3 separate regions of the Homo sapiens genome follow, and regions 1 and 3 are each linked to region 2. Evidence: fine-mapped QTL for protein levels in blood plasma. A gene starts in region 2. Each other region holds a variant in brackets. All regions are shown on one strand. Distances are from middle to middle. Region 1 holds the start of LOC105379623 (a long non-coding RNA gene). Region 2 holds the start of OCLN (occludin). Region 3 holds the start of LOC105379016 (a long non-coding RNA gene).

The links. PIP is the posterior inclusion probability: the model's chance that the variant is causal. The UK Biobank Pharma Proteomics Project read protein levels with antibody pairs (Olink). The fine-mapping took linkage between variants from a reference panel, not from the people measured, so its PIPs are less certain.
Region 1: its variant is fine-mapped to the plasma level of the OCLN protein (UK Biobank, PIP above 0.99).
Region 3: its variant is fine-mapped to the plasma level of the OCLN protein (UK Biobank, PIP above 0.99).

What each region holds. Positions count from the first base shown.
Region 1 is chr5:69,838,264-69,846,453 of GRCh38, forward strand. It overlaps LOC105379623 (a long non-coding RNA gene), which reads right to left and starts at 6,101. Exons shown (of 5, transcript XR_001742419.2): 1 at 5,820-6,101; 2 at 4,183-4,233. RefSeq lists an enhancer at 5,667-6,490. The variant A/AT (reference allele first, on the strand shown) is at 4,823.
Region 2 is chr5:69,488,313-69,496,499 of GRCh38, forward strand. It overlaps OCLN (occludin), which reads left to right and starts at 4,478. Exons shown (of 9, transcript NM_001205254.2): 1 at 4,478-4,588.
Region 3 is chr5:71,287,371-71,295,560 of GRCh38, forward strand. It overlaps LOC105379016 (a long non-coding RNA gene), which reads right to left and starts at 2,486. Exons shown (of 3, transcript XR_948416.3): 1 at 2,225-2,486. RefSeq lists enhancers at 1,520-2,345, 2,346-3,171. The variant A/AT (reference allele first, on the strand shown) is at 4,244.

The DNA of each region.
Region 1 (8,190 bases), 350 kb after region 2:
AGTTTTAAAATACTATGATCATCCAGAATAAGAAAATGTAATAGTCACACACCTGATTTCCACCCATCCCTCCTAACATAACACTATTCTAACTTTTACCAGTAAGGAATCAAATAGTGTGTGTAGTGTTTTGAACCACATTTTTTTGCTTAATATTATATTTGTGAGACGAATTGACTATATGACCTGCAAATGAAACTATTTATATTTATTTCTCTAATATTTTATTAGGTGATCATATTACAACTTATTTGTTTACTGTACTCTTTATAAGTATTTTAGTCCACTTTTGGGCCACAGTTTGGGGTTATTTTGGTGTTATTCTGAAAAGTGTTTTCATGAGTACACATTTTTTTTTAGCTATATATATGCATGCATTTCTGGAGAAACCATCTTTACAAGTAGAATTTTGGGGCCTAATACATATCTTTATCCAAATTATTTGAACTAAGTTATGCCAATAACATCAATTTGAGTGTTCTAATTAGTCAACATTCTCATCAATACTTTGCACTTTCTCTTCAACTTAGAATTCTAAAATATTCCTTTCAAATTCAGGATTCTGAATGACAAGTACTTACATCTCATTGTGGTTTGAATTATTTTTTCAGGTAACCAATATAAATAAAAACCTTTTAATAAGTTCATTGGTTATTTGAATATTTTATTTTTGAAGTGTCTAAAGTATTTTCTTTCTAATCCAGTCCAGTTATTTTTCTGTGGTTTGCTTCTTGTTGTCTTATTGAGTTCATTGCCTTTTTAATATTCTTTTCCGGTTAACATTTCCCCCTCACTGATCTGAAATGTTTTCATTATATACCACCTTTCCATATCTGTCAATGTCTTGATTTTCTATATGATCTTCATCTATCTGTAGTTATAACTCATTTTAATCATAGAAGCTTTAAGAATTGCTTAATATTTTGTATTGACTCCAAATTCCATTGATTTTATAGGATATTTCTAGCTATTCTTGCTTCTTTATTCCTCCAAGTAAATTTGTCTATTTTTCTAAATCTGGAAAAAGAAATTCTAGAAAATGTCGTTTTGTTATGACACAGAAGATATAAGTTTATTTAAAGAACTGGCACATTTATGATTTTAAGGCTTTTTCAAGAGCATGGAATTTCTTTCCCCGTGCTCAAGTCCAAATTTGTGCCATTCAGAAGTGTTTTCTAGTTTTTTTTATATATAGGTTTTAAACATTTCTGGTTAAGTTTATGCCCTCACATTTTATTTTAGTTTGGTTAATGACGTTTTACATGTGTGAGTTCCCTCAATTATTTCTTTTAAATGTTCTGATTCAATAGGAACACTCTCCTTAGTATCCTTAACAGAAATGATTCTTGTTTATAGAATTGCTAAATAAGTAAAGAAATTTTAAGTTAAATCATGGCAAGGAGTTATAATTATACTAAGCTTTTTTGTTCCTAGAGGTTTTGGCTCACTCATATGGTAATCTATATGAAAATTTTTCTGTGATATCTAATATTAGAAAGATCCTCAGTGATAGAATAGTGTTTCTTCCTAGCTGATTCATACATCTTTCTCTGCCAACATTTTGTTTGTTGAAGTGTTCCCCAACATATGACTCATTGCTTACTAAATCCCTATTGAGCAGCCAAAGCCCTGGTGACTAATTATGTCATTAATTTGGGAAAGTCAGAGACAATAAGACTGTCAGTTGAAACTTTGTAGGAGGTAAAAAAGTCACTGCTGTCAGCTGCAAAGATCCTTAAAACGGTCTTCAGTAAAGTCAAATTTTGTGACAAGAATTATTGCATCAAAGTCGGGGAAATACCTCTTAGATCAAATAAGATACATTGAAAAGCCAAAAATTATTTTTATCTCACTTTGGGTTCTCATAAGGTCTACCCACTGTTACTTGGATATGAGACTTAACAAATGGAAAAGAAGACAGGGGTACTGTCACACTGTATTTTCCTACGGCCTAATGACCACAATGGTTGATGAACTGCAGTAAAGTTTCTATAATATTTTCCATCTATTCATTTGCTCAATCACCTTGTAATGGTTATGTTGGTTAATTCCAGTCTTTCATGGGTAAGCAACAAAATGAGACTTAATTTGAAATATCCAGTATTTTTCTATTCTTACAAATAATTTTCAGGATCAATGCACTGAGGATTAGGAATGGCAATGTGTATTACTACTTTGATACCAACTATATCCAATCTAATGTTGGAATTTGTTTGACAAAGTGTTATGTATTTGAAAACAGGCAGCACTGAATAAAAAGAATATGGGCAAAAGAAAAATGGAAGTGTTTTGAATGGAAGTCTAAAATATTTATTGATCAATGCTGAACTGAGTAAGCAGGAGATGCCTGTACATAAATGACATTATCCTGATCTAGTAACAGGGAGAAGCAGAATATCTGAAAGCTGTTTATTAATTTGATAATAATAAGATTAGAAACATGCAAATCAAGATTAATAGTATTCACTTCTAATTGGGTTTAGGTAGACTTTGACTATTTTGCTTCTGATGTTCTTATATTTTTAATTTTCTATAATGATCATATAACATATAATATTTTCATAATATTAAACATTTTAGAATTAAACTCCATTAGAGTGTATCTTTCCTAAAATAATATAAACATCCAATCTTGTCCTTAACAATTCTGTTCTCAAACATTAGCCTATTCCCTCAAGCCAGTGTTGCTTTCGACCCATATTGTCCATCATTTCAATTTATCTCAAAGTTTTTTATTGCAACAATTAAATGCTTTGAATGATACCCAAGGCATAGTTCTATTTCAACAAAATTTCAAAGTTAATAGTTACATCAAATTTTGTTGGTGCTCATTGAATTTGGTTATTAAAACCATAAGTAGTATGTTTTATGCTGACTGAGGGAGATAAAAGTAGTAATGTTTAATATTCAAACTGTGATGACTGAAAAAAAAATGAGGCCTGTAAAATCTTATTTAACGTCAAATTTTAATTAAACAGGCTTAGCAGACCAAAATTAAAATCTCAATTATTTTTAAATTATTAATGACAGACAACTAGATTGAGTGAACACTGGCATCTCTTTTCAAATAACTTAGTTTAGTGGATGAGTTAAACATAAACTAGTTATTATAATGCAGCGAAGTATGTGAAAAATTTAATTTGAACCCTACTTAGCTTAAAATCCTGACATTCTAGGATGCAAGTCCTGCAAACTTTCCATATGTAATCAACAATTTTCTAAACATGCATGCTGTATCTCTCCTGTGTGACTTTGCATACATCATTCCCACATTCTAGATCATCCCGACCCACCTTAAGTGACTGCTTTTGCATAATCTCCCTTAAAATTCTAACTCAAGCACTGCATCTTTTGAGTCCTTCCCTAACATCTTAACATCTTCCTTCTTTCATTCATCATTAACTATAGTTAGTTATTATAGCACCTGTTAGCACTGTAAAATTATGTGTGTTACACAAGTACAACATGCAGACTAAGGTCGTGTATTACCTAGCCTCATACCAGCGTCACCTAGAACAGCAAAAATGTATGCAGATTAATCACAATATATTTGGATGTACAAAATATATTGAGAGCAAAATATGATGGAAATTTAGGTGATGCTCTTTGAGCATTGCTTCCATTTTCCAATAATGTAACCAGGAATCACTGTTCATGTAATTAAAGAACAATAAGTCTATGTGAATCAAAATATACATATACATGCAAATGTTAAACCTCAGCAGGAAGAGGCCCATTCTCTTGCTTGCTGATATATATATATATATATATATATATATATATATACACACACACACACACACACACACATATATGTATGTTGTGTGTATATGTATATACACACAACAATCTATAGGCTTGCCTTTTAAAATAGTATAAGCAACAAATTTTAAGAGAAACAATAATGAGTGTGTAAAACATTAGATATGTGTATGTACCTTTGCTATTATTTGTGGAAATGGGGCTATAAAATAAGCTCCTTTATTTTCTTTTGTAAAACATTTCTTTAATATGAAGTAATGCAATACGTATTTATGTTCTAAGTGTTAATTTCCTTGGATATAAAATAATATCTTGTTCCTTTGATTCTCTTACATATAAGTGTATTTACTCAGATATTACTCCAAATACACCAGATATATTCAAAGTTGAAAAAATATATACTTTGGAATGTATTATCACCTTATTTCACATGAAGAAATCAAAATCTCTGGCATCCAAGTGCATTCCAGCCTGAAAAAAATTATGCAATTGTGAATTTAACAGAAAGCAAATTGCTCACATATGGAGTCAACGTGAAGCTATATCAATATTTATTAAAAGTTTATATATTACTTTTGATCCCCTGGAGAGAAATACAAAATTCAAATAATTATTCTATTTTTATATCCCAATTTGTAATTATGAAACTCTAGCATTTTAATTTTTCTCTTTCAAGTTTACCTGAAGCTTCACAAAATTCTGTGAGGAATCTATTATAACAGGTATTTTGCTTATTTCCACACAAACAGAAGGAAATGTGTATTTTCTATGCCCTGAAGAATTTACTCTTTTCTGTAAATGACATATGGTAGTTAATTCTTTTTGGTAATAAAATATTCCTGTTTTTAGGCCGAACAGCCTTTTCTTTAAATTCAGGGCAACATATCAAAGCTTTGCCGTAATAATACAGAGTAATCGACTAAAGTAATATAGAATTTAAATAACAAAGAGTTTAAACAATTTAATATGTCTTCTATTAATTTCAAACTGAAATTTTACAGAAATTATTTGGAATATGCTGCCAGAGTACACACACACACACACACACACACACACACAC[A/AT]ATCACACGCTCACATCACACACTCACACCCAGCTAAAGGAAATTACCACAGCTATAATGATTTCATTAAATATCTGAAATTAAAGTTTCTTTTGGATTTTCAGCTGAAGCTCATAGTAAATAAAAGTAATATGATCATTGTTGCATACTGTGAATCAACAGCACCCAGAAACCTTCGACTTTCTATATTTACACAGCTTAATTATCCGAACTGAAACCTGAGGCCATCTGTGTCAACATGATTTCACAATTCATTCCAGAAAATTATTTTTCAGGAAAGTAAGGCTGCAAACCAATAAATAACTTATTGTTTGCTTCAGGAAATTTCTGCAAATCAATTTATGTCAGTAAGCAACTCTCCTCTGGGCCAACAGATTGCTCACCTGGGCAGGTAGCAGCTTGTGTCAATTAACAGTTTACTTATGAAGACTTCTGTCATGGCCCTTAACTCACAGTGTCCCCCAATCCTAAACTCTATGTCCTGAACATTACCTATTCTTATCAGTCATTGGTCTTGAAAGGCCCCGGGCAACCATTTGAGCCCAGACTTCAATACTCTATCAATACCACCTTATCATCTACTTTTCTAACATGACCCCTCAAGGTGGTGACCCCACTTACAGTCGTCTTTTATTGAATTTAGCTTTCCCTAATCAACATGCTAGTCTATTGGATGCAGTGTCGGAGGCAAAAATCACAGAGGTTCTGAAAGCATCAGCCCATGGTTTTCTAAACATCATGGTTCAAGACCCTTAACACGAAACAGAAAGTTTCCCCGAGGCGCCGTAAACAACCCATTTGGGCGCTTCCCTGATAATTATAGTGAAATCTGGCATCTAATTTTTTTTGGTGGACTCTCAAATTTTATATTTATGTTTTGATTCCTAGAAATAAAAAATGTTTTTATAAGGAATTCTTTGATCGTTTATGTTTTATTCTTGATAGAAACCTACTACTTTATAACTTCGTTTATGTTTTACTCTTGATAGAAACCTACTACTTTATAACTTCGAACATTATTGATGTTCTTCCTGTATTTCTGAGAGGTGACAGCTTGCTGGCATCCCTCGCTGGCTCTCGGCACCTCCTCGGCCTCAGCCCACTCTGGCCGCGCTTGAGGAGCCCTTCAGCCCGCAGCTGCACCGTGGGAGCCCCTCTCTGTGCTGGCTGAGGCCTGAGCGGGCTCCCTCTGCTGGCGGGGAGGTGTGGAGGGAGAGGCGCGGGCCGGAACCTGGGCTGCCTGCGGGGCTCGCCGGTCCAGCGCGACTTCCGGGTGGGCGCGGGCTCGGCGCGACTTCCGGGTGGGCGCGGGCTCGGCGCGCCCCGCACTCTTGAGCGGTCGGCTGGCGCCGCCGGCCCTGGGCAGTGAGAGGCTTAGCACCCGGGCCAGCAGCTGCGGAGGGTGCACTGGGTCCTCCAACAGTGATGGCCCGCCGGCGCCGCGCTCGAATTTTCGCTGGGCCTCAGCCACCTCCCCGCGGGGCAAGGGGGCAGGGCTCGGGACCTGCAGCCTGCCATGCTGGAGCCCTCACCCTCCTCCCCGCCCCCGTCCCCTGCCCCCCGCCCCCCGCCCCCCAACCGCAGGCTCCCGCGCGCCACCCCGAGGGGACGGGCGCCACCTCCTGCTACGCGGCACCCGGTCCCGTCAACCGCCCAACGGCTGAGGAGTGCGGCAGCGCGCCAGAGACTGGCGGGCAGCTCCGCCCGCGGCCGGGATGCACTAGGCAAAGCCAGCTGGGCTCCTGAGTCCGGTGGGTACTTGGAGAACTTACTACGTCTAGCTGGAGGATTGTAAATGCACCAATCAGCATGCTGTGTCTAGCTCAAGGTATGTGAACGCACTAATCAGTGCTCTGTGTCTAGCTAATCTGGTGGGGACTTGGAGAACTTTTGTGTCTAGCTAAAGGATTGTAAACAGACCAAGCAGCTCTCTGTAAAATGAACCCATCAGCTCTCTATGAAATGGACCGATCATCAGGATGTGGGTGGGGTGAGATAAGGGAATAAAAGCAGCTGCCAGAGCCAGCAACAGCAACGTGCTAGGGTCCCTTTCCACAGTGTGGAGGCTTTGTTCTTTTGCTCTTTGCAGTCTTGCTGCTGCTCACTGTTTGGCTCTGCGCAGAGCTGTAACACTCACCAAGAAGGTCTGCAGCTTCACCCAAAGATATTCCAAAGATACAGAAAACTATATAGAGACATTTTGTATAGTTCTAATAGCATATAATCCACAGGTCCCTGATCTATAATATGGGTTTTTTATAAAATTGTTTTTTTGTATGCTATGAGGAATTTTACTTGTTAAAAAGAAGAGGTGGAAAGGCAGAATATGAAAACTATGAAAATGACATAAGAGACTATGAATTAGGTGAGAAACCAGAGAGGTTTAGAAACCTGTAGACATTGTGCATCCCCCAATGCCTTTCCCCTTAAAAAAATATTATATTCTAGTCCAGTCCATCAAATAAAGTCTACATTCATTAGAAACATATTCTCTTGGTTTTTATAATTTCAGTTTTTTCCAGACACAGTGCATATGCAGATTTGTTACTTTTGTACAGTGCACCCTGGTAGTGAGCATAGTACCCAGTAGGTAGTTATTCAGCCCATGCTCCCCTCTCTCCCCCACCCCCATAGCCTGCAGCATGTCTTGTTCCCATGTTAATGTTCCTGTGTGCTCAGTGTTTAGGTTCCACTTATAAGTGAGAATGTGTGGTATCTGGTTTTCTTTTCCAGCACTAATTTGCTTAGGATTATGTCCTTAGCTCCATCCATGTTGCTGCAAAGGACATAATTTCATTCTTTTTTATGGAGGCATAGTATTCCATAGTGTATATGTACCACATTTTCTTTATCCAATCCACCTTTGATGGGCACCTAGGTTCATTCCATGTCTGTGCTATTGTGAATAACATGCTGATGAACGTACGAGTGCATATATATTTTTCTGGTAGAATAATTTATTTTCCTTTGAATATATACCCAGTAATGGGAATGCTGGGTCGAAGGGTATCTCTGTTTTAAGTTCTTAGAGAAATCTCCAAAATACTTTCCACAGTACCTGAACCAGTTTACATTTCCATCAACAGTAGTGTATAAGCATTCCCTTTACTCTGCAGCCTGGCCAACATCTAATTTTTTTACTTTTTAATTATAGCTGTTGTGACTGATGTGAGATGGCATCTTACTGTGGTTTTTGCTTGCATTTATTTATTTGATGATTAGTAAGGATGAGTGTTTTTTCATATACTTGAGTGTCTTCTTTTGAGAAAATATCTGTTCATGTCCTTTGCCTTTTCTTGATTTAAATTTTAAGTTCTGGGGTACATGTGCAGGAAGCGCAGTTTTGTTACATAGATAAACGTGTGTGG
Region 2 (8,187 bases):
AGCCTGTAATCCCAGCATTTTGGAGGCTGAGGCGGGTGAATTGCTTGAGGTCAGGAGTTTGAGACCAGCCTGACCAACACAGTGAAACCCCGTGTCTACTAAAAATGCAAAAATTAACTGGGCGTGGTGGCGGGCACCTGTAATCCTAGCTACTCAGGAGGCTGAGGCAGGAGAATCGCTTGAACCTGGGAGGCAGAGGTTGCAGTGAGCTGAGATTGCGCCATTGCACTCCAGCTTGGGCAACGGAGCGAGACTCCGTCTCAAAAAAAAAAAAAAAAAAAAAAAAAAACCCAAAAACCAGAAAAAAATAAAAAAAAACATAAAACTGCCGGGCATGGTGGCTCACCTCTGTAATCCTAGCGCTTTGAGAGGCCAAGGCGTTAGTATCACCTGAGGTCAGGAGTTCGAGACCAGCCTGACCAACAAGGTGAAATCCCATCTCTACTGAAAATACAAAAATTAGCCAGGCGTGGTGGCAGGTGCCTGTAGTCCCAACTATTCAGGAGGCTGACATAGGAGAATCATTTGAACCCAGGAGGCGGAGGTTGCAGAGAGCTGATCACACCATTGCACTCCAGCCTGGGCTACGGAGGAGACTCTGTTTCAAAACAAACAAACAGAAAACCAAAAAAACACTTAGCATAGTACTTAGAACATGTTTTTCCCTGAGTAAATGGTGCTATTATTATTCTTCCACCTGTTGAAGTTCCTGTTCAGGTGCTGAGTCTCTTTGTTTAAATATGGATTCCTCCCAGGAGGATCTTGCTTAACACATAGGAATAGAGAAGATAAAGGTTTACTCATCTAGTGTAATCATCCTTTTAGAAATTGTCTTCCTAGTGGCTTCCCCATAAATTCTTCCATACACCTGTCCAAGGAAACTGTCCTGTGTGGACCAGAAGCCTCCCCCTCCTCATGACTGGGCAGAGAAACTAGAGGCCTTTCAGGCCAGGCCCTCAGCAACTCCAAACTGAGTTGCCTTGGACACATACCAGTCTTTGAATTCATTTACTAAGCAGGCAAGGCAGAGTGGAAACAGTGGAACTATGTTAATCTCCCGTCTTTTCTCCTCTAAACCCTAGTACTAGAGATGTAAGCCTTGAAATGCTACTAAGGAACGTGCGGGTTTCACAATAGCAGGAGGCCATCTGAGAGGAGGACAAGACTCCACAGGCATGTTGGATTTGGGAAGCAGGGCTATAGTCATTCATTCATTCATCCAACACATAGTTATGTAATTCCTATGTGACAGGAACTATTTCAGGCATATAGGATACAGCAATGGCTTGCTCAATTTATTGAGACTTGTTTCGTGGCTCAGCATATAGTCTGTCTTGGTGAATGCTCCACATTCCCACCAACAGACTTATAAAGACAGTATTGTTTATTATCATCTCAAATTTACGGTGGAAAAAAATGAACCTTACATAGTTTAATTTCCTTTAGTCCTACCCAGCTACCAAGTAGCAACACTGGAATTTGAACTGAGATTTCTGACACCATAATCTGAGCTCTTAAGTTTCTCTTTTACACATAGAAAAGGAGAAACAAATTGTCTTTTCATCTTATCCATTTGACTGCAGGTAAAGTCAACAAGTTTCTAATCATGGGGTTCTGAAAATAATATTTACATTGCTCTGAGTCACGGGGATTTTCATCAAATAATATTCAATAGTGGATACTACTCAATACTACTGTGAGTTGCCAAGAAGGAATATTTGGTAAAAAATATAGTAATTAAATTTTGCTATAATTTATGATTATGTAACATGATTAAATTGAGCATGGCATCATTTAACATCCAACAAATTTTGTTTTGGTATTGAAGAATGATGTGTTTAAGTTTTAAGGCTGGATTTTCTTTCTAGACACTTTCAACTATGAAATATACACAATATTGGACAATAGTTAACCGTTCTTTTGATGTTGTTGTTTAGAAAATTAATCTCAAGCGAATAAAATAGAATTCATACAATTAATGAATCCTATTATTCCATATGGATGAACTCAGAACTAACTAGAAAGTAAGTTTCACAGAGATTTTTGAGTTTTGTTCACTCGTGTGTGTACAGATTAGGCACTCAGAAAATAGTTGAAGGAATGAATTGGGAAAGCAAATAGAATATGAAAGCCTTCTACCCAACACAACATGTCTTTGAGTTTAGGTTTAGGGTGGGAATAAGAAAAATAACATGATATGCATAAGTTATCTTAAAATGATAAAAAGTTTAATTTAAAAACCTAATTTACCAAGAGAACCGAAAACATATGTCCACACAAAAACTTGTACACAAATGTTCATAGTAACATTATTCATAACATCCCCAAAGGAGAAACAACCCAAATGTTCATCAACAGATGAATGATTAAACGAAATGTGATACATCGATACAATGGAATATTATTCAGTTATAAAAAGGAATGAAGTACCAATACATACTACATCATGGATGAACCTTTAAAATATTATGCTAAGTGAAAGAAGACAGACACAAAGGGCACATATTGTATTATCCATTCATATAAAATGTCCAGAATAGGCAAATTAATAGAGACAGAAAGTACATTAGTGGTTGCCGAGGGATGAGGGGAGAGGGGAAATGGGGAGTGACTATTAATGGGCATGGGGTTTCTTTTGGGGGCGATTAAAATGGAATTAGATGGTGGTGATGGTTGTACAATCTGGTGAGTATACTAAAACCCACTGAATTGTACGTGCCCTTTAAAAGGGTGAATTTTATGGTATGTGAACTCTCTTTTATAAAGTGGAAAAAAACTCCTAAGATCTCTTCAGAACATGTCAAAATACATTATAAAATAATAGACATGTGTTTACAAATCTGAGAGTATTAGGAAATGTTCCCTTGTTTAATTATAAACCAAATGGAATGTTTGGAGATTTCAGTAATCTGACAGGGAACATTAAGGGGATTAACCTGACTTCCCCAGTGTTAACAATACCAATTTAAACTGCATCATTCAAAAACTACATAGTCATATTAAAGCATTTGTAGCAATGACTTCCACGAAAAAAATACCAATTAAATTAATTACCCATTAAAGCTGCCATCATCTGAAATACCTCATATTTATATAGTGCTTTTACTTCCTCAAGTATGAATTGTGCCTTAAGATCTAATGTATGGGAGAGTCACATCTCTAACCATTTAATTAAAGGTAGAGAAGTGGGTGGGATTGGATAGAAATTTATTAGCAATGCTGACATTCCAGATTGGAACACAAAGACAAGCAGGATGTAAGAAACCTAAAAGTTCGCTTTCAATGCAGATAGTTAAATGCCAAGAACTATAATTGCCACATCCTGGAGTACAATTAAAAAATATGTTGAAAAACAACCAACATACATAAAAATATACACAGTGTTAAGTGCAGACTATGAAATTTCCCTTGGAAACAGAATCCAGATCAAGAAATAGAATACAGCACCCGGAACTAAGGTGCTTTTTCGTTTTCTTAAAAAAAAAAAAAAAGTAAACCAAGTTTATTTTGCTTTTTAAGTAGTGTTGTTCTTAAAGCACTACAGGTTGGTAAACAACGTATAAGGTGCTTTTTCTCAGGCCAAAGAGCCATAATAGTTTAAATTTCCCGGTCCTCAAGAGCGGACCGGGTGGGCAGGAGAGGACCCTGGGGTGGTGATGTGTAAACTGTATTATGCACTTTAGCCTGCTGGATGGCAACTAACACCTACAGTAGTTCACCCTCATTTTAACCCCTCTAAGTAATTGTCTCTTATTCTGAATCTAGAGATTCAGAAACAGCGCCAATGTTTACACACGACTTTTGAAATTTTCCCAGGAGTCTTTCGTTGGAGCAATACATCTAGATGCCTTTTTCCAGCAACAGTTTAATCAAATTCTGGAAGCAGAAAAGTGTCCTGTGAGGACGTGCCTTTCCTATCAAAGTGCTGAGTGCCTGGACCCTCTTTCCGGAGGAAACAGTCCCCTCTGGACCTCGTTCGGCCTCTCTCCATCAGACACCCCAAGGTTCCATCCGAAGCAGGCGGAGCACCGAACGCACCCCGGGGTGGTCAGGGACCCCCATCCGTGCTGCCCCCTAGGAGCCCGCGCCTCTCCTCTGCGCCCCGCCTCTCGGGCCGCAACGTCGCGCGGTTCCTTTAACAGCGCGCTGGCAGGGTGTGGGAAGCAGGACCGCGTCCTCCCGCCCCCTCCCATCCGAGTTTCAGGTGAATTGGTCACCGAGGGAGGAGGCCGACACACCACACCTACACTCCCGCGTCCACCTCTCCCTCCCTGCTTCCTCTGGCGGAGGCGGCAGGAACCGAGAGCCAGGTCCAGAGCGCCGAGGAGCCGGTCTAGGACGCAGCAGGTGGGACTCGCGGCGCTGGCCCGCAGGCTTCCCGCACCCCCTTCCACGTTGGTGCGCATGCCCGGGGGCAGGGCCGGTTGTAGGGAGGAGGGAAAGGAGAGGGAGAAGGGGGAGGAGACGTCCCCAGCCCAGTCCCCGGCTGAGCGCTGGCGGTCGGTGCGGCGTCAGGTGCGCCCGCCAGGTGAGCGCGCTCCCTGGCACCGTTGGCCCCCGGAGGGTCGGGCCCAGTTGCGGCGAGCGGGTGAGTGTTGGGCGCGGCGTCAGGGGCGCACGGGAGCCCGAGGGTCCCCGTGGGGGGACCGCGGCGACTATGTTAGGGGAGGTGCCGGGGGGAGGACGCTCCGCGCTGGTTTCGGTGGCAGTTTCGTCCCCGAGCTGGGACTCGTGGGAACCAGAGAGGCGCGGGTCTGCGGAGAGAGCAGCACCGGCCAACTTGGGAGGCTGCCTCCTGGGGCGAGGGGTGGCTTGGAGCCGCCGATCAAGCTTTATTCCGCGGAAACGCTGAAAGCTAGCAGTGCCTCAGCGGCGCGGGCAACTTTTCACTTTTATGGGGCACGACATTCCTGAACAGCGACGATCCTGCATCCGCTCTGGGGCTGCAGTTTGGGGGGGCGGCCTTCATGGAGAGGGATCCTGCGCCCAGCTCCTTGGGGGTCCTAAGCCTGAGGCTGCAGCGAGGCGGCTGTTCGGCGGCCCGGGCGGCTTAGATCCCGGGGGGAATTTCATTCCTTCCGCTCCCACCCCACCCCTTTGGATATCCCGGGGAGACGGGGGCTGGATTCAATCTGTGAAATATTCCAGGAGTCACGGTGTGGGCCACACTGGCTACTTCGAATCCACTTGTTGCGAGTTGTGTGAACCCGCGTCGATTTAAGCTGGGGGGCGGGGAGTTAATTTCGAGTGAGGCTGGACTTCGAGGGAAGCTGCTCACGCTTCGGATTCTCATCCGTGACCAAAAGGGCTGCCCCCAGGGGGGCGGAACTGCCTCCGGGCGGTGCCTGCCCGGCGAACGTGGGCGCGCGCTGCCTGGGAGCGCCTCGGTGCGCACGGAAGCCGGGACCCGCGCCCAGCCGGGCCACGGAGTTTGGGGACCTCCGGGACTGGGCCGGCCCCGCGCGCCAGCCATGTTGCCTGCGTCGGAGGAAGCGTGCGGGGAGCAGGGGTCGAGGGCCAAGATGGCCTCTGCGCCTAGGGGTTGGGAGCGGCGCCGAGCCCCTCGCGCTCCTCGGGAAGCCACCGGGCCCGAGGGAAAAGCCGCGGCATCCTTAGGCCGGACCCGGGGCTCGCTGGCCACACTGCCCGCTTGGGGAATTACCCTGCTCGAGGAGGAGGCGGCGGCTTTCCAGGCCAGTCAGTGTGTGGCCCTTAGGCAACAGGTGTATTATTGGGATACCTGGAAAAGAGAAACGTTTCCCATGAAGGCACTTATGGTGTTTTTTGGTGATTCTTGGTGTGATAGAAAACTAGGCGTTCCCAAGTGTAACAATAGTAACAGTAGTTCTTTTGCACTGTACATATGAGGTGCTTGTGTGTGTGTGTGTGTGTGTTTTTCCGAGACGGAGTCTGGCTCTGTCCCCCAGTGCAGTGGCATCATCTGGGCTCACTGCAACCTCTGCCTCCCGGGTTCAAGCGATTCTCCTGCTCAGCCTCCCGAATAGCTGGGATTACAGGCACCCACTAGTATGCACAGCTAATTTTTGTATTTTTAGTAGAGACAGGGTTTTGCCATTTGGTCAGGCTGGTCTCGAACTCCTGACCTCAGGTGATTCGCCCGCCTTGGCCTCCCAAAGTGCTGGGATTACAGGCGTAAGCCACCACACCCAGCCTTTATGAATATTTTCTTAGTGGTGCTTTAAAATAGACATCTTAAGTGTGTGTGGGAGGCAGAGATATTTCCTCAAACAAAGCAACACTTTTTTTTTGGTCGTTTTGCAATTTATTTAGTTATTAGGGGCCTCCTTTGTTAGGTGACGGAGCAGAGGATAGGGAGATCGGTAAGACATGATTCTCCACCTTTTGGCAGTTTCCAGGCCATTTCGGGAAATAGTGGGCAGCAGTGCCTCCTGCACGTGAGGCACTGTGGTAAAAGCATTCTGTATTTTCTCATTTAATTATCCCAACAACTCTAAAAGGCAGGCCTTAGTAGAACTCCATTTTAAAAGTGGGCAAATGCCGTGGGGGAAACGTTGCAGGTGGGCTTGCTTGCAAACTGCTTCAGCTAATATGGGAAGGAGTATCAGAAGCAGCGGTCCTTGATATTCCAGAACCAGATTTGGGGAATTTTTCTGGACTTTTCTACCATTGACTAGTAACTGTAGCCTGATACAAGATTTCCCGCATTTTGCTTGATATCAAGGTAAAATTCTTGTTTTCTTCTAAAGGTAGTGTTGGAATTACTACCTTTTCAAAATAGTATATTACTTTTAACCACATAAATGATCTGATGTAATATCTTTCATCTTCCTAGGAACCTCCCAGAAGGAAGTTTTCTTCAGTTGCATTTTAAGGCTTATTTGATTGGAATATTAATGGATCTTTTTCATCAAATTACTATTTATGGAAATAAGAGAGTAAACAGACCATGCAGATTTATGTTAGGCTTTTTGTTTTAACCCCTAGGCTTGCCGCTGTTCCGTAACCCAGTGATTCCAGTCTTGGCTGTGGTATGAATCACTTAGGGATCCTATTAAAACACAGATTCTGATTGGGAGGTCAGGAGTGGGGCCTGGGATTCTGCCTTTCTAACAGGCTCACAGGTGATTCTCAGACTGTTCTGTCTTCTTTTTCTCCCTTTCTCTTAGACTCTACGCACTTAATTACATTTGACAAACTGAAGTTGGAAAAAATAACGTTTATTGAGTGTTGTGTGAAGAACTTCAAGGCATTCACTGCTGGATTGAAATCCCAACTCTAATAATTGACTGTTGGTTTTATTAATTGAGTACTCATTGACAATCACTTTGTGCCAGGGCTAGTTCCAGCGACCAGGGATATAAATGATGGTCAAAATAGACATTTGATGTCTGGGATATGGGCATTCCAGATGCGGTGGAGATGATACCTATATTTTAGGTATGAGGGCAGAGGGGAGTTTGCTCTGAAAAAAAAAACAAGTTTTGTGTGATGGAGTGAGGGACAGGGAGGGCATCTCCCAGAAGGTGACGTCTGAGCTGAGACCTGAACAGCAGGTGTCTGTTGTGTAAAAGATCTGGGCTTTCTAGACAGGAAATTGCAAGATCAATGTCCTTTTTGGATTGACACCTTTATTGTAGACAGCAATTCTCAAAATATGTGATGTGTTTAAAAATCACCTGGAAGATTTATTAAAAATACAATTTCTGACACAGAGTCTATTACAAAATCTGCCTAACTTCAAATTTTTAGACAATTTACTAATGATGTGCCTGTAGTCTAAATCATTTAATATAAGGCACAACTTAAACTTTTTTTTTTTTTTTTGAGACAGAGTCTCGCTGTCTCCCAGGCTGGAGTGCAGTGGCACGATCTTGGCTTACTGCAAGCTCCGCCTCCCGGGTTCACACCATTCTCCTGCCTCGGCCTCCCGAGTAGTTGGGACTACAGGCGCCTGCCACCATGCCCAGCTAATTTTTTGTATTTTTAATAGAGGCGGGGTTTCACTGTGTTAGCGGGGATGGTCTCGATCTCCTGACCTCGTGATCCTCCCGTCTCGGCCCCCCAAAGTGCTGGGATTACAGGCGTGAGCCACCGCGCCCGGCCACAACTTAAACTTTTTAAAGGCAAATTGACAGTTACTGCATGTGCTCTAAAAGGAACAGACTTCTCTTAAATACAATAAAGTTTATTTTTCACTTATTGACA
Region 3 (8,190 bases), 1.8 Mb after region 2:
CAACAAAAACAAACAATGGGGAAAAGGCACCCTATTCAATAAATGGTGCTGGGATAATTCGCTAGCCATAAGCAGAAGAGTGAAACTGGATGCTTACCTTCCACCATACACACAAATTAATTCAAGATGGATTAAAGGTTAAAATGTAAGACTTCAGATTATGAAAACTCTAAAACAAAACCTAGGAAATATTTTTCTCGACATTGGCCTTGGCAAATAATTTTTGGCTAAGTTTCTAAAAACAATTGCAACAAAAACGAAATTGACAAGTGAAAGTCAATCAAACTAAAAAGCTTCTGCACAGCAATAGAAACTATCCACAGAGTAAACAGACAACTTACAGAATGGGAGAAAATATTTGCAAACTATGCATCTGATAAAGATCTAATATAACAAATCCATAAGGAAGAAAAAATGACAAGCATAAAACAACCCCAGTTAAAAAGGGCAAAGCTAATACAGGAGCAGAAAATCAAACTCCGCATCTTCTCACTTATAAGTGGGAGCTGAACAATGGGAACACATGGACACAGGGAGGGGAACAACACACAATGGGGAACAACACACAACACACACTATAATTTTCTGTAGGGGGTTGAGGAGAGGGAGAGCATCAGGAAAAATAGCTAATGCATGCTGGGCTTAATACCTAGGTGATGGGTTGATAGGTGCAGCAAACCACCACCACACACGTTTATCTATGTAACAAAACTGCGCTTCCTGCACATGTACCCCAGAACTTAAAATTTAAATCAAGAAAAGGCAAAGGACATGAACAGATATTTTCTCAAAAGAAGACACTCAAGTATATGAAAAAACACTCATCCTTACTAATCATCAAATAAATAAATGCAAGCAAAAACCACAGTAAGATGCCATCTCACATCAGTCACAACAGCTATAATTAAAAAGTAAAAAAATTAGATGTTGGCCAGGCTGCAGAGTAAAGGGAATGCTTATACACTACTGTTGATGGAAATGTAAACTGGTTCAGGTACTGTGGAAAGTATTTTGGAGATTTCTCTAAGAACTTAAAACAGAGATACCCTTCGACCCAGCATTCCCATTACTGGGTATATATTCAAAGGAAAATAAATTATTCTACCAGAAAAATATATATGCACTCGTACGTTCATCAGCATGTTATTCACAATAGCACAGACATGGAATGAACCTAGGTGCCCATCAAAGGTGGATTGGATAAAGAAAATGTGGTACATATACACTATGGAATACTATGCCTCCATAAAAAAGAATGAAATTATGTCCTTTGCAGCAACATGGATGGAGCTAAGGACATAATCCTAAGCAAATTAGTGCTGGAAAAGAAAACCAGATACCACACATTCTCACTTATAAGTGGAACCTAAACACTGAGCACACAGGAACATTAACATGGGAACAAGACATGCTGCAGGCTATGGGGGTGGGGGAGAGAGGGGAGCATGGGCTGAATAACTACCTACTGGGTACTATGCTCACTACCAGGGTGCACTGTACAAAAGTAACAAATCTGCATATGCACTGTGTCTGGAAAAAACTGAAATTATAAAAACCAAGAGAATATGTTTCTAATGAATGTAGACTTTATTTGATGGACTGGACTAGAATATAATATTTTTTTAAGGGGAAAGGCATTGGGGGATGCACAATGTCTACAGGTTTCTAAACCTCTCTGGTTTCTCACCTAATTCATAGTCTCTTATGTCATTTTCATAGTTTTCATATTCTGCCTTTCCACCTCTTCTTTTTAACAAGTAAAATTCCTCATAGCATACAAAAAAACAATTTTATAAAAAACCCATATTATAGATCAGGGACCTGTGGATTATATGCTATTAGAACTATACAAAATGTCTCTATATAGTTTTCTGTATCTTTGGAATATCTTTGGGTGAAGCTGCAGACCTTCTTGGTGAGTGTTACAGCTCTGCGCAGAGCCAAACAGTGAGCAGCAGCAAGACTGCAAAGAGCAAAAGAACAAAGCCTCCACACTGTGGAAAGGGACCCTAGCACGTTGCTGTTGCTGGCTCTGGCAGCTGCTTTTATTCCCTTATCTCACCCCACCCACATCCTGATGATCGGTCCATTTCATAGAGAGCTGATGGGTTCATTTTACAGAGAGCTGCTTGGTCTGTTTACAATCCTTTAGCTAGACACAAAAGTTCTCCAAGTCCCCACCAGATTAGCTAGACACAGAGCACTGATTAGTGCGTTCACATACCTTGAGCTAGACACAGCATGCTGATTGGTGCATTTACAATCCTCCAGCTAGACGTAGTAAGTTCTCCAAGTACCCACCGGACTCAGGAGCCCAGCTGGCTTTGCCTAGTGCATCCCGGCCGCGGGCGGAGCTGCCCGCCAGTCTCTGGCGCGCTGCCGCACTCCTCAGCCGTTGGGCGGTTGACGGGACCGGGTGCCGCGTAGCAGGAGGTGGCGCCCGTCCCCTCGGGGTGGCGCGCGGGAGCCTGCGGTTGGGGGGCGGGGGGCGGGGGGCGGGGGGCAGGGGACGGGGGCGGGGAGGAGGGTGAGGGCTCCAGCATGGCAGGCTGCAGGTCCCGAGCCCTGCCCCCTTGCCCCGCGGGGAGGTGGCTGAGGCCCAGCGAAAATTCGAGCGCGGCGCCGGCGGGCCATCACTGTTGGAGGACCCAGTGCACCCTCCGCAGCTGCTGGCCCGGGTGCTAAGCCTCTCACTGCCCAGGGCCGGCGGCGCCAGCCGACCGCTCAAGAGTGCGGGGCGCGCCGAGCCCGCGCCCACCCGGAAGTCGCGCTGAGCCCGCGCCCACCCGGAAGTCGCGCTGGACCTGCGAGCACCGCAGGCAGCCCAGGTTCCGGCCCGCGCCTCTCCCTCCACACCTCCCCGCCAGCAGAGGGAGCCCGCTCAGGCCTCAGCCAGCACAGAGAGGGGCTCCCACGGTGCAGCTGCGGGCTGAAGGGCTCCTCAAGCGCGGCCAGAGTGGGCTGAGGCCGAGGAGGCGCCGAGAGCCAGCGAGGGATGCCAGCAAGCTGTCACCTCTCAGAAATACAGGAAGAACATCAATAATGTTCGAAGTTATAAAGTAGTAGGTTTCTATCAAGAGTAAAACATAAACGAAGTTATAAAGTAGTAGGTTTCTATCAAGAATAAAACATAAACGATCAAAGAATTCCTTATAAAAACATTTTTTATTTCTAGGAATCAAAACATAAATATAAAATTTGAGAGTCCACCAAAAAAAATTAGATGCCAGATTTCACTATAATTATCAGGGAAGCGCCCAAATGGGTTGTTTACGGCGCCTCGGGGAAACTTTCTGTTTCGTGTTAAGGGTCTTGAACCATGATGTTTAGAAAACCATGGGCTGATGCTTTCAGAACCTCTGTGATTTTTGCCTCCGACACTGCATCCAATAGACTAGCATGTTGATTAGGGAAAGCTAAATTCAATAAAAGACGACTGTAAGTGGGGTCACCACCTTGAGGGGTCATGTTAGAAAAGTAGATGATAAGGTGGTATTGATAGAGTATTGAAGTCTGGGCTCAAATGGTTGCCCGGGGCCTTTCAAGACCAATGACTGATAAGAATAGGTAATGTTCAGGACATAGAGTTTAGGATTGGGGGACACTGTGAGTTAAGGGCCATGACAGAAGTCTTCATAAGTAAACTGTTAATTGACACAAGCTGCTACCTGCCCAGGTGAGCAATCTGTTGGCCCAGAGGAGAGTTGCTTACTGACATAAATTGATTTGCAGAAATTTCCTGAAGCAAACAATAAGTTATTTATTGGTTTGCAGCCTTACTTTCCTGAAAAATGAATTGTGAAATCATGTTGACACAGATGGCCTCAGGTTTCAGTTCGGATAATTAAGCTGTGTAAATATAGAAAGTCGAAGGTTTCTGGGTGCTGTTGATTCACAGTATGCAACAATGATCATATTACTTTTATTTACTATGAGCTTCAGCTGAAAATCCAAAAGAAACTTTAATTTCAGATATTTAATGAAATCATTATAGCTGTGGTAATTTCCTTTAGCTGGGTGTGAGTGTGTGATGTGAGCGTGTGGTGTGTGTGTGTGTGTGTGTGTGTGTGTGTGTGTGTGTACTCTGGCAGCATATTCCAAATAATTTCTGTAAAATTTCAGTTTGAAATTAATAGAAGACATATTAAATTGTTTAAACTCTTTGTTATTTAAATTCTATATTACTTTAGTCGATTACTCTGTATTATTACGGCAAAGCTTTGATATGTTGCCCTGAATTTAA[A/AT]GAAAAGGCTGTTCGGCCTAAAAACAGGAATATTTTATTACCAAAAAGAATTAACTACCATATGTCATTTACAGAAAAGAGTAAATTCTTCAGGGCATAGAAAATACACATTTCCTTCTGTTTGTGTGGAAATAAGCAAAATACCTGTTATAATAGATTCCTCACAGAATTTTGTGAAGCTTCAGGTAAACTTGAAAGAGAAAAATTAAAATGCTAGAGTTTCATAATTACAAATTGGGATATAAAAATAGAATAATTATTTGAATTTTGTATTTCTCTCCAGGGGATCAAAAGTAATATATAAACTTTTAATAAATATTGATATAGCTTCACGTTGACTCCATATGTGAGCAATTTGCTTTCTGTTAAATTCACAATTGCATAATTTTTTTCAGGCTGGAATGCACTTGGATGCCAGAGATTTTGATTTCTTCATGTGAAATAAGGTGATAATACATTCCAAAGTATATTTTTTTTCAACTTTGAATATATCTGGTGTATTTGGAGTAATATCTGAGTAAATACACTTATATGTAAGAGAATCAAAGGAACAAGATATTATTTTATATCCAAGGAAATTAACACTTAGAACATAAATACGTATTGCATTACTTCATATTAAAGAAATGTTTTACAAAAGAAAATAAAGGAGCTTATTTTATAGCCCCATTTCCACAAATAATAGCAAAGGTACATACACATATCTAATGTTTTACACACTCATTATTGTTTCTCTTAAAATTTGTTGCTTATACTATTTTAAAAGGCAAGCCTATAGATTGTTGTGTGTATATACATATACACACAACATACATATATGTGTGTGTGTGTGTGTGTGTGTGTGTGTATATATATATATATATATATATATATCAGCAAGCAAGAGAATGGGCCTCTTCCTGCTGAGGTTTAACATTTGCATGTATATGTATATTTTGATTCACATAGACTTATTGTTCTTTAATTACATGAACAGTGATTCCTGGTTACATTATTGGAAAATGGAAGCAATGCTCAAAGAGCATCACCTAAATTTCCATCATATTTTGCTCTCAATATATTTTGTACATCCAAATATATTGTGATTAATCTGCATACATTTTTGCTGTTCTAGGTGACGCTGGTATGAGGCTAGGTAATACACGACCTTAGTCTGCATGTTGTACTTGTGTAACACACATAATTTTACAGTGCTAACAGGTGCTATAATAACTAACTATAGTTAATGATGAATGAAAGAAGGAAGATGTTAAGATGTTAGGGAAGGACTCAAAAGATGCAGTGCTTGAGTTAGAATTTTAAGGGAGATTATGCAAAAGCAGTCACTTAAGGTGGGTCGGGATGATCTAGAATGTGGGAATGATGTATGCAAAGTCACACAGGAGAGATACAGCATGCATGTTTAGAAAATTGTTGATTACATATGGAAAGTTTGCAGGACTTGCATCCTAGAATGTCAGGATTTTAAGCTAAGTAGGGTTCAAATTAAATTTTTCACATACTTCGCTGCATTATAATAACTAGTTTATGTTTAACTCATCCACTAAACTAAGTTATTTGAAAAGAGATGCCAGTGTTCACTCAATCTAGTTGTCTGTCATTAATAATTTAAAAATAATTGAGATTTTAATTTTGGTCTGCTAAGCCTGTTTAATTAAAATTTGACGTTAAATAAGATTTTACAGGCCTCATTTTTTTTTCAGTCATCACAGTTTGAATATTAAACATTACTACTTTTATCTCCCTCAGTCAGCATAAAACATACTACTTATGGTTTTAATAACCAAATTCAATGAGCACCAACAAAATTTGATGTAACTATTAACTTTGAAATTTTGTTGAAATAGAACTATGCCTTGGGTATCATTCAAAGCATTTAATTGTTGCAATAAAAAACTTTGAGATAAATTGAAATGATGGACAATATGGGTCGAAAGCAACACTGGCTTGAGGGAATAGGCTAATGTTTGAGAACAGAATTGTTAAGGACAAGATTGGATGTTTATATTATTTTAGGAAAGATACACTCTAATGGAGTTTAATTCTAAAATGTTTAATATTATGAAAATATTATATGTTATATGATCATTATAGAAAATTAAAAATATAAGAACATCAGAAGCAAAATAGTCAAAGTCTACCTAAACCCAATTAGAAGTGAATACTATTAATCTTGATTTGCATGTTTCTAATCTTATTATTATCAAATTAATAAACAGCTTTCAGATATTCTGCTTCTCCCTGTTACTAGATCAGGATAATGTCATTTATGTACAGGCATCTCCTGCTTACTCAGTTCAGCATTGATCAATAAATATTTTAGACTTCCATTCAAAACACTTCCATTTTTCTTTTGCCCATATTCTTTTTATTCAGTGCTGCCTGTTTTCAAATACACAACACTTTGTCAAACAAATTCCAACATTAGATTGGATATAGTTGGTATCAAAGTAGTAATACACATTGCCATTCCTAATCCTCAGTGCATTGATCCTGAAAATTATTTGTAAGAATAGAAAAATACTGGATATTTCAAATTAAGTCTCATTTTGTTGCTTACCCATGAAAGACTGGAATTAACCAACATAACCATTACAAGGTGATTGAGCAAATGAATAGATGGAAAATATTATAGAAACTTTACTGCAGTTCATCAACCATTGTGGTCATTAGGCCATAGGAAAATACAGTGTGACAGTACCCCTGTCTTCTTTTCCATTTGTTAAGTCTCATATCCAAGTAACAGTGGGTAGACCTTATGAGAACCCAAAGTGAGATAAAAATAATTTTTGGCTTTTCAATGTATCTTATTTGATCTAAGAGGTATTTCCCCGACTTTGATGCAATAATTCTTGTCACAAAATTTGACTTTACTGAAGACCGTTTTAAGGATCTTTGCAGCTGACAGCAGTGACTTTTTTACCTCCTACAAAGTTTCAACTGACAGTCTTATTGTCTCTGACTTTCCCAAATTAATGACATAATTAGTCACCAGGGCTTTGGCTGCTCAATAGGGATTTAGTAAGCAATGAGTCATATGTTGGGGAACACTTCAACAAACAAAATGTTGGCAGAGAAAGATGTATGAATCAGCTAGGAAGAAACACTATTCTATCACTGAGGATCTTTCTAATATTAGATATCACAGAAAAATTTTCATATAGATTACCATACGAGTGAGCCAAAACCTCTAGGAACAAAAAAGCTTAGTATAATTATAACTCCTTGCCATGATTTAACTTAAAATTTCTTTACTTATTTAGCAATTCTATAAACAAGAATCATTTCTGTTAAGGATACTAAGGAGAGTGTTCCTATTGAATCAGAACATTTAAAACAAATAATTGAGGGAACTCACACATGTAAAACGTCATTAACCAAACTAAAATAAAATGTGAGGGCATAAACTTAACCAGAAATGTTTAAAACCTATATATAAAAAAAACTAGAAAACACTTCTGAATGGCACAAATTTGGACTTGAGCACGGGGAAAGAAATTCCATGCTCTTGAAAAAGCCTTAAAATCATAAATGTGCCAGTTCTTTAAATAAACTTATATCTTCTGTGTCATAACAAAACGACATTTTCTAGAATTTCTTTTTCCAGATTTAGAAAAATAGACAAATTTACTTGGAGGAATAAAGAAGCAAGAATAGCTAGAAATATCCTATAAAATCAATGGAATTTGGAGTCAATACAAAATATTAAGCAATTCTTAAAGCTTCTATGATTAAAATGAGTTATAACTACAGATAGATGAAGATCATATAGAAAATCAAGACATTGACAGATATGGAAAGGTGGTATATAATGAAAACATTTCAGATCAATGAGGGGGAAATGTTAACCGGAAAAGAATATTAAAAAGGCAATGAACTCAATAAGACAACAAGAAGCAAACCACAGAAAAATAACTGGACTGGATTAGAAAGAAAATATCTTAGAC